Linked DNA regions of Homo sapiens: region 2 is linked to region 1. The links come from fine-mapping of genetic effects on gene expression. Tissue or cell type: esophagus muscle. Region 1 holds a variant in brackets; the other region holds the start of a gene. All regions are shown on one strand. Distances are from middle to middle.

Evidence for each region. PIP is the estimated chance that this variant, and not a neighbour inherited with it, causes the effect.
Region 2: PDHA1 starts here. The variant in region 1 is fine-mapped to the expression of PDHA1 in esophagus muscle (GTEx, PIP above 0.99).

What each region holds. Positions count from the first base shown.
Region 1 is chrX:19,435,615-19,443,796 of GRCh38, reverse strand. All of the region lies in intron 6 of MAP3K15 (mitogen-activated protein kinase kinase kinase 15), which reads left to right. Among named protein-coding and RNA genes, the nearest start is that of MAP3K15, 76 kb to the left of the region's middle. The variant G/C (reference allele first, on the strand shown) is at 3,443.
Region 2 is chrX:19,340,568-19,348,749 of GRCh38, reverse strand. PDHA1 (pyruvate dehydrogenase E1 subunit alpha 1) reads right to left here and starts at 4,823. Exons shown (of 11, transcript NM_000284.4): 1 at 4,656-4,823. The coding sequence starts at 4,712.

The DNA.
Region 1 (8,182 bases):
GAATAGAAATGACTCCATGTGGCCTGGCCCGTCCCTCCCGGTTTGCTCCTCTCTAGCTGCCCTCATCCGCCTTCAGTCTTAGGGCAGCAGGCTGTTCTCAGCTGTGGATGTTAGCATATGCTGTGCCCCCGCCCAGAATACTCGTTCCCTCATTGCTTACCTGACTGAAGCTGATGATCCTTCAGGGTCTAGTTTCAGTGTCTCTTTCTGAGAAAAGCTGATGTTGCAAAGAATACCAAGTCTGGAAAGGATGTTCCTATTGTTACTCATTCTCATAGCGCTTGCTATTTCCCTTTATAGCACTCCATTTCTGTGTTTACTTGCTTAATACCTATCATCCCTCCTGCTGTACTATAAGCCTGAGGGGGCAGGGGCCATGGTGTATACTAGGCCGTGATATAGCCAGTGCCTAGTAACATTGTGCCACCCACAGAGTAGGCACTCAGTAAAGATTTGTTGAATGGGGTTGGGCGCAGTGGCTCATGCCTGTCATCCCAGCACTTTGGGAGGTCGAGGCAGGCAGATCACTTGAGGTCAGGAGTTTGAGACCAGCCTGGTCTACATGGTAAAACCCCGTTTCTACTAAAAATACAAAAATGAGCCAGGCATGGTGGCACATACCTGTAATCCCAGCTACTCAGAAGGCTGAGGCATGAGAATCACTTGAACCCGGGAGGCGGAAGTTGCAGTGAGCTGAGATTGTGCCACTGCAGTCCAGTCTGGGCGACAGAGCGAGACTCCATCTCAAAAAAAAAAAAAAAAAAAAAAAAAAAAGCCGGGCATGGTGGCTCATGCCTGTCATCCCAGCACTTTGGGAGGTCGAGGCAGGTGGATCACTTGAGGTCAGGAGTTTGAGACCAGCCTGGCCAACATGGTGAAACCCCGTCTCTACTAAAAATATAAAAAATTACCCAGGTGTGGTGGTGCGCACCTGTAATCCCAGGTACTCGGGAGGCTGAGGCAGGAGAATCAACTGAACCCGGGAAGTGGAGATTGCAGTGAGCCGAGATTGTGTCACTGCACTCCAGCCTGGGCAACAGAGTCAGAGTCCATCTCAAAATAATAATAATAATAATAATGATAATAATAATAATAATAATAAAATAAAAGCCAGGCATGGTAATACATGCCTGTAGTCCCAGCTACTTGGGAGGCTGAGGCAGGAGAATCACTTGAACCCAGGAGGCAGAGGTTGCAGTGAGTCGAGATCGCACCACTGTACTCCAATCTGGGCGACAGAGTGAGACTCTGCCTCAAAAAAAAAAAAAAAAATTGTTGAATGGGTAAGTGAATGAAGAAGTGACTAATGATCAACTGTGGTATAGTATTAGAAGAGAGCCACATAATGAGTGTCTGGGTGCTACAGTTAATTTAAAGTTTGGTAGTAGAAAGTAAACGTATTGTATTTTCTTTATTTATATGTGAGTCTGTGCTTAAAAACAAAAACATCCAAGTCAGACATACTCATTGTATACAGAAAAATATAAAAACATAATTACCGTTGATACCACTACCCAAAGATAACCATTGAAGTAGGGTGTGGCCCAAAGCAGGGAATGCAGAAAAGTAGAGGAGTCCACATGGGCTAGGTCAGGGTCAGTGGTGATGGAAGTCTTCCTAGCGTGAGAATCCCTGGTGTCTGCTAAAAAAGGGATTTGATAAAAACTCAGAGGGGAACAGATCTTCCTGACCGAGGGAACCCCTGCCGCCTCGGTGGTGTTGACTTGTGTATTAGGCTAGTGTAACTGTTGTAACAGACAGCCCCACAATTTCAGTGACTTCACATGATGGAAGTTTCTTTTCACTCATGCACTATTCCAATGTGGATGTATCCTGGCTGGGCAGTCTCTTCTTCAGGTGATTTCTTGGTGAACTCAGTCTCCTTACATCTTGAGGCTCTGCCCTCTCCTGGATCCTCAGATCTCCTTTCAGCCAGATGATAGGAAAAGAGCATGGTGACTTGTTAGAGAGGTTTTGTATCTGTGTTTGGAACAGCTTTGCTGAGATGTAATTCTCATACCATACAATTAACCCATTTTGGCTGGATGCATTGGCTCACACCTGTAATCCCAGCACTTTGCGGGGCCAAGGCAGGCGGATGGCTTGAGTTCAGGAGTTCGAGACTAGCTTGGGCAACATGGCAAAACCCTGTCTTTACAAAAAAATACAAAAAAATTAACCAGGCATTATGGTGCATGCCTATATTCCCAGCTACTCGGGATGGCTTGAGCCCTGGAGTCGGAGGATGCAGTGAGATCGTGCCACTGCACTCCAGCCTGGACGACGGACCCAAACCCTGTCTCAAAGACCCAAAAAACAACCCATTTAAAGTGTACAAGTCGGTGGGTTTTTTTAGCATATTCGGAGTTGTACAACCATCACTACGATCAGTTTTAGAATGTTTTCATCATCCTCCCCCCGCCACCAAAAGCCCATACCCATTACCACTTAACCCCACTTCCCAGCTTCCCTCAATTCTTCCCCCCCTATTCCTAAGCAATCACTGATCCATTTTGGCAACCTGTTAATGGGTACCCCCTCTTCTTCCGCCTCACTCTCTAGCCTGAGGAAAACACTAGTCTCTTTTCTGTCTCTATGGCTTTGCCTGTTCTGGCCATTTCATATAAATGGAATCATACAATATGTGTTTTGTGTGTGTCTGGCTTCCTTAGCATACTGTCTTCAAGGTTCATCCATGTGGTATCATGTGTCAGGACTTCATTCCTTTTTTTGGCTTAATATTCCATTGTACAGATAGGCCACACTTTATTAATTCATCAGTTGATGGGCATTTGAGTTGTTTGCACTTTTGACTGTACTAGAGAGGGTTGTAGGAGCCTGCTCAGGAAGTGATGTTCATTACTTCTTTCCATGTTTCATCGGCCACAAGTCAGTCTCGTGTCCTAATCTCACTTCAAGGGAACTTGGGAAATGTGGTCTGGCTGAGTGCCCAGGAAAAAAAGAAATGGGGCTTGGTGATGCTGCTACAACTTGCAAATAAGGAGTAGAGTTTAACTGGATCTATCAGCGTGGAGATTCCTGGTGACATGTCACAGAGCAGGACAGAGAGTTCAGGCAAGGCCACTCTTCAGCTCCTGCTGCCTTTGTGTGAATGGGAAAGCCAGCCTGGGAAATGCCCAGCCCCATCAGAGGGCCTATCAGCCCACTGTAGACCCTGGCCTTCACAGGTGGTGCTTTGCCATCCCAGGAGACTGGGAAAGGTTGGGATGATGGCAGCTAGGGTGGATGATTTCATGGTGATTGTGCCTGATACATAACTGGGTCCTATTTGTAGAGTAGAAAAACAACTATTCGGATCTGTACGTTTATTTGACTCTGAACATTGTTCACACTAAGACACAGGTCGCTTCTAGTTGTTCCCTTCCATGTATGTAAATACGAGGCATCTGGCCAGAGCAGGGCACCTGCTTTCTTGTGGTAG[G/C]TGTGTATTTGTCAGGGTCCAATCGGGAAACAAAGACCACTCTAAGTATTTAAAATAGAAGAAACTTAATGTAGGAAATTGGTTACACAGGTGATAGAAGAGCTGACAAACCAATCGGAAATGATGAGGCAGCCCTGAAGTTAGCATCAGCAGGAAGCTGCTGTCACCCGCTTGGCTGGAGGGACCCAGGGAAGAGGTGATGTTACCAGAGCCCAGGTGCCAGGATCACCTGGAACAATCGTGAGCCAGCCTGGTGGGAGCTGGGTCTAACAAAGAGATGTGGCTATTGCTGGAGTGGCCATGCACACCAAGAAAAAGTGGGAGAAGAAACTGCGCTGGCTTCTTCCATCCCATCCTCCAGGGCCTCACCCTCTGCCCCCAGTGCCTCCCACCGGTTGCTGTCAGCTGAGCACAGCAGCCTAGAGGAGTCAGCTCCCCTGTAACACAAAGCAGGGCTGCAGAAAGGCCAAGAATGCATTTGAGGGCAGACCCCAGTGATTGCCCCAGTAGGACACTATTCAGAATTACTGCTCAGTTTCTAGTATTTTTAAAGTCAGCTTTAATAAGGTGTAACTTACATACCATAGGCCGGGCACTGTGACTCATGCCTGTAATCCTAGTACTTTGGCAGGCCGAGGTGGGAGGATCACTTGAGGCCAGGAGTTTGAGACCAGCCTGGACAACACAGTGAGACTCTGTCTATAAAATAAAAATGAAAAAATTATCTTGCCTTGGTGGTGTACGCCTATAGTCCCAGCTACTCAGGAGGCTGAGATGGGAGGATTGCTTGAGGCTGGGAGTTGAAGGCTGTGGTTGAGCTATGACCATGCCACAGTATTCCAACCTGGGTGACAGTGAGATCCTGTCTCAAAAAACCACCATACAATAAACTAAAATTTTAAGTGCACGATTTGATGAGTTTGGCCAAATAAACACACCCATGAAACTACCACCACAATCAAGATATAGAATATTATATCCCTGTGTTAGGCCGTTCTCATATTGCTATAAAGAAATACCAGAGACTGGGTGATTTATAAAGAAAACAGGTTTAATTGGCTCACAGTTCTGCAGACTGTACAAGCATGGCATTGGTGTCTGCTCAGCTTCTGGGGAGGTCTCAGGCAGGTTTTATTCATGGCAGAAGGTGAAGGCGGAGCAGGCAGCTCATATGGTGAGAGGGAGAGTGAGGGCCGGTGGCACGACCTCTACTCACTGCAACCTTCACCTTCTGGGTTTGAGCAATTCTCCTGCCTCAGACTCCCGACTGGCTAGGATTACAGGCACCTACCACCACACCTGGCTAATTTTTGTATTTTTGTAGAGACAGGGTTTCACCATGTTGGCCAGACTGGTCTCAAACTCCTGACCTCAAGTGATCTGCCCGTCTCGGCCTCCCAAAGTGCTGGGATTACAGGCATGAGCCACTGTGCCCGGACTCAGTGTGATTTTTACATTTGTTGGGGTTTTTATTGTCACTACAGGAGTGAAGACCTTTCACATTCTTCTACATCTTAATTGGAAGCAGAAGTCTCTTGTAAGGTTTTTGACAGGTGACCCAACACAAAGTTTATTCTAGAAAGGACACTGGTCTAATGAGACCTTTTGTGTGTTAAAGCTCAGGGCTGGCTTAGAAGGAGGATTTATTGGGATTCTATTTGTCTCTTGCCCTATGAATTTCCTCTTACAGACACACAGTATAGAAAAGAGGGCCAGGGAGACAGGATGGTTGATGGCAAGTCAGTGCTCTGGCACACCCATAGCTCATGGCAATGCTTTGAGGTAAGCAAAGTCAGACACTTCAGGTGAAGGACTGAGGCACAGAAGGGCTAAGTGCCCTCCTCAAAATTCAATTGGGTAATAAATGGTGTGAAAATAGCCAGGATCTAGCTCTATATGATTCCCAATCCAGTGTTGTGTTTTTATTCTGTGCATTTTTTACATAAGTAATAGATGTGTTGGCTCATGCCTGCAGTCTCAGCACTTTGGGAGGCCAAGGCGAGAGGATCACTTGAGCCTAGGAGTTTGAGATCAGCCTGGGCCACATAGTGAGACCCCATCTCTACCAAATAAATAAATAAAAATAAAAGCTAGGTGTGGTCATGCGTGCCTGTATTCCCAGCACTCTGAGGCAGGAGTTTCACTTGAGCCCAGGAGCTTGAGCCTACAGTGAGCCGTGATCACACCACTCAGTGCATTCCACTTGGGCAACAGAGCAAGACCCTGCCTCAAAAAAACAAAAGTGATAATAGATGAATATGTTTGTATATTACTGTGAAAAACTGAAAAACAATCCATTTAAAGCAGTTATCCCTCTAAACTCTAATCTCTTGTCCCGTCCATATTCCGGAAGTAACCTGTCTTGTCAGTTTGGTGTAATATCCTTGGAGACAATTTTCTATGTACTTTACATACTGTGAAAATATGTCATACTGCAGAGTTTTTAAACTATAGGACCACACAGGAGGTATACTGTTGTTTTTTTCACATAGTAATCGATGCTTAGAGATCTCTCCATGTCACTACAATAACTGCTCAGTTAGTCATTCATTTAACAGACACTTATTGATCACCTACTTTGTGCCAGATCCAGTTCTAAGTACAGTAGTTAACAAATCAGACCCAAAAAGTCTCCACCCTCTCGGAGCTTGCATTCTAAAATGGGGAGATAGAATAAAAAAAACCTAAATGTATTAAAACAGTTTAGGGTGATAGGGTAGCCAGTAAGTAGGATGGGAAGATTGTAATTTTAAGTTGAGTGCTCAGAGAAGACCACACCTATTAGAAAGTGACATGGAGCAAAGATCAGAAAGAGGCAAGGGAACATACCATGTGGTATGTGGGGGAAGATCATTTCAGGTAGAGGGATCAGCATGTGGAACAGCAAGGAAGCTTGTGTAGCTGGAGCATAGTAGGTGATCGGGGCACAGGAGTGGTAAGAGATGAGGTTGGAGAAATAACTAGGACCACATCTTGTAGATCCTTACAGGCCATTGGAAGAAAATTGGTGTTTGCTCTAAGATGGGAGCCACTGGTGAGTTTTGAGTCGAAGGATGACATGACCTGCCTTACAGCGCAGAGGATCACTATGACTTCTGTGTTGAGACTAGATAGTAGAGAGGTAAGTGTGGAAGCAGGAAATGACATGGCTTGGACCAGAGTGGTAAGGGTGGGCTTTATGAGGAGTGGGTCAATTTCAGATGTAGTTTGAAATAAAAGCCAGTGGAATCTCCTGGTCCAATAAATGGTGTTAGAGGAACCAAACATGACTGCAAAGTTTTTGGCCTGAGTAAGAGGAAGAATGGATTGGCCATTTAACAAGAAGAGGAAGACTGTAGAAGAACAGGTTTGATGGGACAATCAAGAGTTTGATTTGGGGCCAGCCATGGTGGTGCACACTTGTAATCCCAGCACTTGAGGAGGCCAAGGTGGGCAGATCACTTGAGGCCAGGAGTTCAAGACCACCCTGGTCATCATGGCTAAACGCTGTTTCTACTAAAAATGCAAAAATTAGCTGGGCCTGGTGGTGCACGCCTGTAATCCCAGCTACTTGGGAGGCTGAGGCATGAGAGTCGCTTCAGCCTGTGAGTTAGAGGTTGCAGTGAGCTGAGAATGCATCACACCATTCCAGCCTGGATGACAGAGTTGAGACTCTGTCTGAGGGGGACAAAAAAAAGTTTGATTTGGGACACGTTAAGTTTGAGGTATCAACATGCAAATGAGTTGCTGAGAGGGCAGTTGGATATGTGAGTCTGGATTTTAGGGGAGAGGCCTAGGCTGGAGATAGAAATTTGGAAGTCATCAAAATATGGATGGTTTGAAAAGTCATGGCAATGGATGATCAAGGGATCTAGGGTAGTTACCAAGAAAGATGAAATGTCCAAGGGTACTGCCAAGGGACACTCCAATGTGAAAAGATCAGAGAGATGGACTAAAGTAGGAGAAAATCGGGCGAGTGTGGTGTCCTGCAAATCAGATGATAAAAGTAGTCCAAGGAGGAAGGGGTGCACGGTTGTCAAATGCACATGTATGTGAAATAGGACAAGGAGTGAGAAGGGAGTGGTGGATTCAGCAATGATGCCAACCCACTGACGCAGAAAGTCCAGCATGAGAAGCACTGATGTCTGGGTCTCCAGAGATTCAGATTTAAGCTCCTAGGTGATTGAATTTTTTTTTTCTTTCTTTCTTTTTTTTTTTTTTGACATGGCGTTTCCCTCTTGTTGCCCAGACTGGAGGACAATGGTGCGATCTCGGTTCACTGCAACCTCCGCCTCCTGGGTTCAAGTGATTCTCCTATCTCAGCCTCCCGAGTAGCTGGGACTGCAGGCACCTGCCACCATGCCCTGCTAATTTTTGTATTTTTAGTGGAGACAGGGTTTCACCATGTTGGCCAGGCTGGTCTCGAACTCCTGACCTCAGGTAATCTGCCCGCCTTGGCCTCCCAAAGTGCTGGGATTACAGGCGTGAGCCACCACGCCCAGCCTCCCAGGTGATTCTAATATGCAGCCAAGATTCAGACCCACTGTCAAAGTTTCCTTCTCTTAATTGTGAAATGGCCTTAATTGCCAGAAACAGATGTTGCTGGCTGATTCAACATAGGAGTTTTTATCTGTAGGCTTGTTCTTGGATACCTTGGGATCTGGAAATGATAAGCAGATCCAAAAGCTGATTATTAACCACTAAAGGGATTAGCTATTTAACACCTGTCTTAAAGTGGCTTTTAAGCTGAAAATCTCTTTG
Region 2 (8,182 bases), 95 kb after region 1:
CTGGTCTCCAACTCCTGACCTCAGGTGATCCACCTGCCTTGGCCTCCCAAAGTACTGGGATTGCAGGCATGAGCCACTGCGTCTGGCCTTTTCATGCCATTCTTAGTCATAACCAGATACTGTTCATTTTGAGCAAGCCAAAATTATACTTCAAATAAAACTATGATTTAATCTCCACTCTAGGCAAACTTGACTCTTCTATCAAATTGGATCTGTAAGAAAAAATATTTTAAATTGATTGAAGTATGAGATAAATACTTTAGGGAGACAAGACAAAAGAAAAGATACTTAGCACTCTCTGACTTAAACACAATGGGCTTGAGCCAGCTGTTTTATAATTTATAATTTGAACAGCCTAAATCTTGGACAGGCTCCTCCTGAAGCCCCAGTAGAAATGTTCTCTGAAACACTGTTCTCTTGATGTTTGGGTGGCTGTCACTGTTTGGAGGTAAAAAGCTTGGAGGCGGGGGGTGAGAAATGATTCCTTTCCAGTTTTACAACTGAGCAAACCTGCTCACAGCAAAAGTATTCTATGTAATGGCTAAGGTTTAGGTTAGACCACAAAATTTATCCAGTAGTATTATCATACTATTTTAGCTCCCTTCTGCCACATTCTCACACACTGACGTGTAAACCAACATGATTTCTCCATAAAAAGCACATCTGATGTGTTCATACCTTACCTAATCCAGCACTGGACTGATCTTGGTGAGAAGAGTTAAGACTGATCTGCCAAGTATACCCTGGAGTGTACAAGCCAATAGGCAGAAAGCTAATTACGTATATCTTCACCCCTCAATAGACCATTATTGGACAAAGCCAACAAACACAGACAATGACAGTGCTGGAGGAAAACAACTGAAATACTAGGAATCAGTGTTTCAGTTAACTTACAGGCAGAGACAGTCCACTAATGTATCTCAGAAAAAGTGAAGGAAATTTAGGAATTTGGGAAGAAGTAAAGCTGAGAGAAGGTGAAACAGCAAATCAATGGTTATATTTAGCAATCAAACAGATGTGTTATTCTTGGCAGTTAATAAATATTTTGTGGGGCCAGAAATTTATTGTATTGTGAAATAAATTTCCAAATACAACTACAGAAACTGCAGTTTTTGGAAGGCAGGAGTCCAAACCAGCCAGGCGACAGTAACAGAGAAAAGGTAACTTCTTTCTCAATCCTAGAGTTGAAACAATGAGGCAGGATAATGCTATACAATAAAGAGCAAGAAGGGGCCCAGTGCTGTGGCATGCGCCTGTAATCTTGCGCCTGCAAAGATTAGGACTGCCAGAAAGCTACTTAGATACTTTCTCCCATGGCTTCATTACTGTGTATCTCAAAAATAAGAACCACTGATATGAGTGAAAGGAACAAAGTTAAAGAAGCTAAAAGTCCTATCAGAAGTGTGTGTGTATCATTTCTGAGTGAGAGCTTGTTGAAAAGATAAGTTTACCATTCATTTTCTCTGGAGAGCCATAAAAAGATTCTCTGTTAAATGGGATTCCTCTCTGACAGAGACCACGAACAACCCACTCAAATTTTAAAAAATAAAAACTAGGCCGGGCATGATGGCTCACACCTATAATCCCCAGCACTTTGGGAGGCCAGGGTGGGAGGACCACTTGAAGCCAGGAGTTCAAAGCCAGCCTGGGCAACATGAGACTCTCATCTCTACAAAAATAAATATTAAAAAATTAGTCAGGTATGGTGGCACACACCTGAGGCTACAGTGAGCTATGACTGTGCCACTGCATTCCAGCCTAAAAAAAAAAATTAATTAAAAAAAAGTAAAACTTTAACTTCCTAAATACATAGGAACCATTCATGTGAAAGAGGAAAAACGTTTCAAAAATTCCAGATTCTAACAGTGTAAATTAAAACTCTTACCTACCACTTATAAAGCCAAAACATTGCTAGTAAAGATCTCACAAAAGGAGCCATACAGAAATGCAAACAATAAAATAACATTTTAAATGCATTCAATCTTCTTCCATGAAATAAGAACTATGAAAACTATAAACCTTATTCAAAAATAAAAACACAATCTTGATATTCATTTCAAAGTTTCACACCAAACACTCTTTGATGAGACAATGGCAATCTTTAAGCCTGAGATAAATCTCCCTACCTGCCTGGTTTTAAGAGAGTGAGAGTAATCCCAGCACTTTGGGAGGCCGAGGTGGGAGGACTGCTTGAGCCTGGAGATGGAGACCAGACTGGGCAACGTAGCAAGACCATGTCTCTAGTAAAAAAAAAATTTTTTTAATTGGCTGGGTGTGGTGGTGGCACATGCCTGTGTTCCCAGCTACTCAGGAGGCTAAGGCAGGAGGATCGCTTGAGCCCAGCAGGCTAAGGCTGCAGTGAGCTGTCCTGCTACTGCACTCCAGCCTGGGTGACACAGAGACCCTGTCTCAAACAAAACGAAAGTAAACCAGGGAGAATAAAAAAGGAAAAAACACACAGCGTCTTGGGAGGTTAAGGGGATTATCTTGTGTCACAGCCATCAGACCAGCTGCCTACCCTTCTCCCTCCCCTTCTCCCTCCCTTCATGGAGTATCACACAGATGGTAGGAGTCTAGTGCAGTAAGTCTGCCTAATTTGGGTGAGCCACTGCTTATTGTTTACTGTCAAGATTTTTGTGAAAGGCTTATATGCAAAATGTCTTTTTACATGTATAATATAAAAAACTAAAACGTTGATCTATTTTGTTACTTATAGTTAAGTAAAAAGACATCCATAAGTATGAAGAATTACAAAATACAAAGAGTCAACACGTTAGTTTATTATTCCACCCTTTAAAAAAATAAAAGTGAAACTTTTAGTTCTATCCTTAAAAGCTTCAGGAATGGTTCCTAATTAGTCCATGACAAGTTGAGTGACACAGAAAACTTCTAATTATCTGAAGAGTTTACACCACCAAGTGGAAAGATACCTGGGCACTTTCAAAGGTGACTTCATATCTGGAACTCAATTTTCTTCCTACTGTAAGGTGGCGGGGGGGGGGGGACCCTGCAAACTGATACAGGAAACAATGAACCTGACTTGCAGAAGAAGAAGAAAACCTACATCAGGTGCCTAAAGGAAGGATGTTTCTGAGCCCGTAACTACCGGTACAGCCCTCTACCCACAGATATCCCTAAAGGGAACGCTTTTTTTTTTTTTTTTTTTTTTTTTTTTTTAAAATACGGAGTCTTGCTCTTGTCGCCCAGGCCGTAGTGCAATGGCACGATCTCCGCTCACTGCAAACTCCGCCTCCCGGGTTCAGGCTATTCTCCCGCCTCAGCCTCCCGAGTAGCTGGGATTACAGGAGCCCGCCACCACGACCGGCTAATTTTGTATTTTTAGTAGAGACGGGGTTTCACCATGTTGGCCAGGCTGATCTCGAACTTCTGACCTCAGGTGATCCACCTGCCTCAGCCTCCCAAAATGCTGGGATTACAGGCCTGAGCCACCGCACCCGGCAGTTTTGTCATTATTTTAGGCAACAGGATTCCTAGAGGGGCATACCTCTTACCTTTTGACAATCTCTGCCTGTACTAAGTAGAGCGGTATCAAGTCCTGGGGGAAATACCAGAATCCCGAGGCCTGCAGTTACACCAATTAACACGACCTCACTGTGCCTAGGGGGGTCAGAATGCTAGCTCAGGTGTTAGGCACCTCTAAATGCTGAGGCCATGAAATAGTGCTAAACTCTACCCCCCACCCCTCAAGCATCGTTGCTCTTTGCTTTAGCTACTTGTACCCTAAGAATGTGTAGGTAAGGGGAGGGGAGGGCAGCGTCCTCTGAGTTCTGCTTCGGCGCTCCTGAACTCACTGCCAAGAAAAGCTCAGATGTTGAGGGAGAGGGAAGAGGAGGAAGTTTGTTTCTGAAGAGGCTGACCTTCTGTGAACCCGCCTCAGAACTGAGCACAGGTGTTCAAGAAATGTATACCGAACTGGAGACTCAATAAATAACACTATTCAACACACATGTTATCGATTATGTGCCAGGTGCTATTTGGAATCGTTTCCACACGTGTCACTCGTTGAATCCTCAAGACAACCCCAAGAGGTGGGGACTCTTATTATCTCCATTTTAGAGTTAACTGATAACATTTCAGAGATAACTCTTATCTCCATTTAGAGATTAACTCCACTTCGAGCAAACATTTTAGGAAACCGGGTCCCCGGGACGTTTAAAAACTTGCTCAAGGTCACAGGGCTAGTCAATGGTGAGGGTGCTGTTTGAACGAAGCCACCCTGTCTCCAGATTCTACGCTATTACAAAGCCTCTCGGTCAAGAGAAATTAAGTTAGAAGATCCGAAATGAGTGGGGTCAATTGGAGACTCGAAGGAGGCCGAGGCCACCCTTTCCGTGTCCTGTAACCCAACAGGCACCTCTTGAGCACACCGACTTCGCCTGGCGCACAGCTGGGCCCGGGGGCGGGAGGTGGGTGTCGAGAAGGGGGAAGTTCACACGGACCTTGGCGTGATCCCGGTCCGTGCCGCTTCTCCCGAGGCCAGGAACGGAATGCAGGGCGCGGAGGCGAAGTAAAGGCTCCCCGGCTCCCCTGGCGCCTTCCACCCCGCTCTGGGTGGCCCGGCCTGGCCCGCCCTGCCCTCCGGCCCCGCCTCAGCCCCACTCGCGCCCCATCCCGGCCCGCCCGGGAGGTCTCACCGGCTTCTGAGAAGCGCCAGACAGCACGCGGGAGACGGCGGCGAGCATCTTCCTCATGAAGCACAGGCAGTGGCGGCAGCGGCGACTCCTCACAACCCAGGAGGCACGACGCGGGTGCCCCCAAGTCTCCTTCAGGTGCCCCAGCAGACGCCACGCCTCAGTCGCACCGCGGCGTGACAGAGTCGTAATAACGTCATGCGCTGCGCCGGGCCGCGGGCCAACCAGAACGGCGTCCAGGGGGTGCCCCGCCCCCGCTAAAGGCCTGAGGCTGCCCATTGGGTATCAGCGCCAGAGAGGGAGGGGCTGAGGGCTCTTTCCGACGCCACGCCGCGGGCGGGTGAGGAGGCGGGGCTTGATAGCGCCTGCGTGGGAAGGTGGGGCCCCCGCCTCCAGGGCGCCGCGGGAAAGGAGCCTTCCTAGATTCCGCTCTGCTGACTACCGGGGAGGTTGTGCAGGCCCCGTCCTACCGAGCGCCTACTCCTGCCGGTGCTGCAGCTCTGCAGCCCTCGTTCAGTACATCTCGTTCAGTACACTAGATGATGAAGATTAGCAGCATGCTCAGAGCCAAAAGACAGAACATCTGGTTTCTGTAAATGGTCTGCCACTAACTTTGTCTTTAAAAGATCACGTAGCAGTTGGACAGTTCTGCCCTGTCTACTTGAACGCGGATCAAAAAATTTGTTTCCCAATATATGTCGAGAGGACAATGGGAAAAATCTTTTTTCTCTAGTTATTGGTTCACAGGCTCACTGCGAGTTAACAGCGTGGCTCAGCCGATGATAAAAGCACACACAGAGACAAAACACCAAAGCAACAAGGGGCTCTATTCAGAGGATCAAAGGGCTCAGGAACCCATTGTGTTGTGTCCTAGTGGGATTGCACCTGGGGTTCCGGGTTCAGATTTGGGCTCCACATTTTAAGGGGGATAATGAGTAAACTGAGTGGAATCCAGGGGACAGTGGTCAGAACGGTGAGGGGCTGCGATTGTGACTTATGAAGAACGATTAAAGAAGTTAGGAAGAAAACAGGCTAACTAGAATTGGCTGGGTTATGATGTAACAACTGACCTCCAAATTTCAGTGATTTCAAGAATTTGAAGTGACGCGAGCCATCGTACTCGTAACACAGGTCCCTCACAGCGTGGCACCCTCTCTCTGGAACTTAGCTTGTCTCATGGATGAAGAGAAAAGGGATCATTTAAACCGGCTCTCAAAGCTTCTGCCCAGAAGTGACACATGTCACTTCCTCTCAATTTTCACGGACCAGAGCTAGTTACCCGACCATGTCTGAGTTCCACAAGGTGAAATATAATCCTCCTGCCAGGAGGAGAACAGAAAATTGGATGAACAGTAAAACCAGAGAGGATTGGATATGTCTTCACACATTTTCAGGCCAGTCATGTTCCAGGAGGAAGAGCTATTTTGTGTGTGTGTGTGTGTGTGTGTGAATAAAATCATTTCATTTCAGCATAACAATGAATTTTCTAACAATGACAATGGTCCAATGAGATAATTCTCTCCCAGTGTCACTGAAAGTATTCAAAGCAGAAGTTCAAAGCATGACCAGCTCTCAGCATAGCTAGAGAAATAATTTGGGCACTGGGCCAGACTCTGGACTGAGAGATCGTGTTGCAGTGGAAGAAAACTTCTTAAAGGAGTGAGAGGGCGCCATTAAAAGGCAGAGATGGACGTGAGAAACTTGCATGGTATGATTTCAGCAGCTGCTGCTGCTGATAGAATATGAAAGGTAAAAGAGAATGAAAAGGTTGGAGGCCAGATGTCCAGCTCAGGAGAAAAAGCTGGTCTGAATGGTTTGGGACATGTTGACCTGGTGGTGGCAGTGGCACAGCTATCTGAAGATGTCCCCCGGGAAGTTGGAGTTGTAAGTCTGGAACATTTGCTAAAAATATTAATTTGGGAGTCATCTCCACGGGGTGGTGATATTGGTTGTGCATGTACGGGAACTCTGTAGGCCATATGAATATGAATTCATTCATTCATTTGCTCATTCATCCAACACCTATTATTGAGCACCGATTTTGTGTCAGACACTGTACTACACACTGAAGATATAGCAAGGAACAAGTAAAATATAGGTCCTACTTAAATACATGATTGAACAAATCAATGGGTTAGAAGGAACAACTTTTCCTTACAGTAGAATTCCAATTAATTAATATAGAAGGAATGATGAAAATAGAAAAAGAAAATCACCATTTGGCAAAGACCACAGTAACTGTTGCAGGTGAGAATTATCATCAATACAGGCTAAAATTAGTGGGTAAATGTATGATGAGAAACAGGACATTTGCCTCATCTCAAATGATCTCTCCACTAGATTCATTACAAAGTTTAAAGTAACTTTGCAGTGCAGAAACAAAGTAACCAATTTTTCAATGACTAGGATATTTTCTCTGCACTTCTTGTTCTTCATATATATACATATATATACACACATACGTGTATATATATATATTTTATTTATTTATTTTTTTGAGACAGAGTCTCGCTCTGTCGCCCAGGCTGGAGTGTAGTGGTGCAATTTCAACTCACTGCAAGCTCCGCCTCCCAGGTTCACGCCATTCTCCTGCCTCAGCCTCCCGAGTAGCTGGGACTACAGGTGCCCGCCACCACGCCCGGTTAATTTTTTTTGTATTTTTCGTAGAGACAGGGTTTCACCATGTTAGACAGTATGGTCTTGATCTCCTGACCTCGTGATCCGCCCGTCTCAGCCTCCCAAAGTGCTGGGATTATAGGCATGAGACACTGCGCCCGGCCTCTTTTTTTTTTTTTTTTTTTTGAGACAGATTCTCACTCTGTTGCCCAGGATGGAGTACAGTGGTGACATCTTGGCTCACTGCAACATCTGACTCCCAGGTTCAAGTGATACTCCTCATTCAGCCTCCCGAGTAGCTGGGAAAACGGGCGAGCACCACCATGCCCGACTAATTTTGTATTTTTTTAGTAGAGACGGGGTTTCACCATGTTGGCCAGGCTGGTCTCAAACTCCTGACCTCAGGTGATCTGCCCACCTTGGCCTCCCAAAGTGCTGGGATTACAGGTGTGAGCCACCGCGCCCAGCTGTTTTCAGATATTTGAAAGCAGAGTTGGAAGCAACTTTGAAGGTGAGGGACACTGTGAGATGCTGTGTCAAGTGGTGACAGGTGATGATTGTGGTTAATAGTCATTAACTATAGGCTATAGTAACGTTATAGTAATGTTATAGTCATTAACTATAGGCTATAATAACTATAGGCTATAGTAACGCGCTAGAACATTCACAAAAGACTCTTGTATCAGGAGAGGAGGCCGGAGAGAAAGAAAGATTTGCAAAAGGCGGGAAGAGAAAGTCTTAAGAAAGGAGGGCTCGTTAATCTTGGGGGAAATTGTAATCCCAGCACTTTGGGAGACCAAGGCAGGAGGATCACTTGAGGCCAGGAGTTTGAGGCCAGCCTGGGCCACAAAGTGATACTCGTCTGTACAAAAAATAAAATAATTAGTCTGGTATGGTGTTGCATGCCTGTAGTC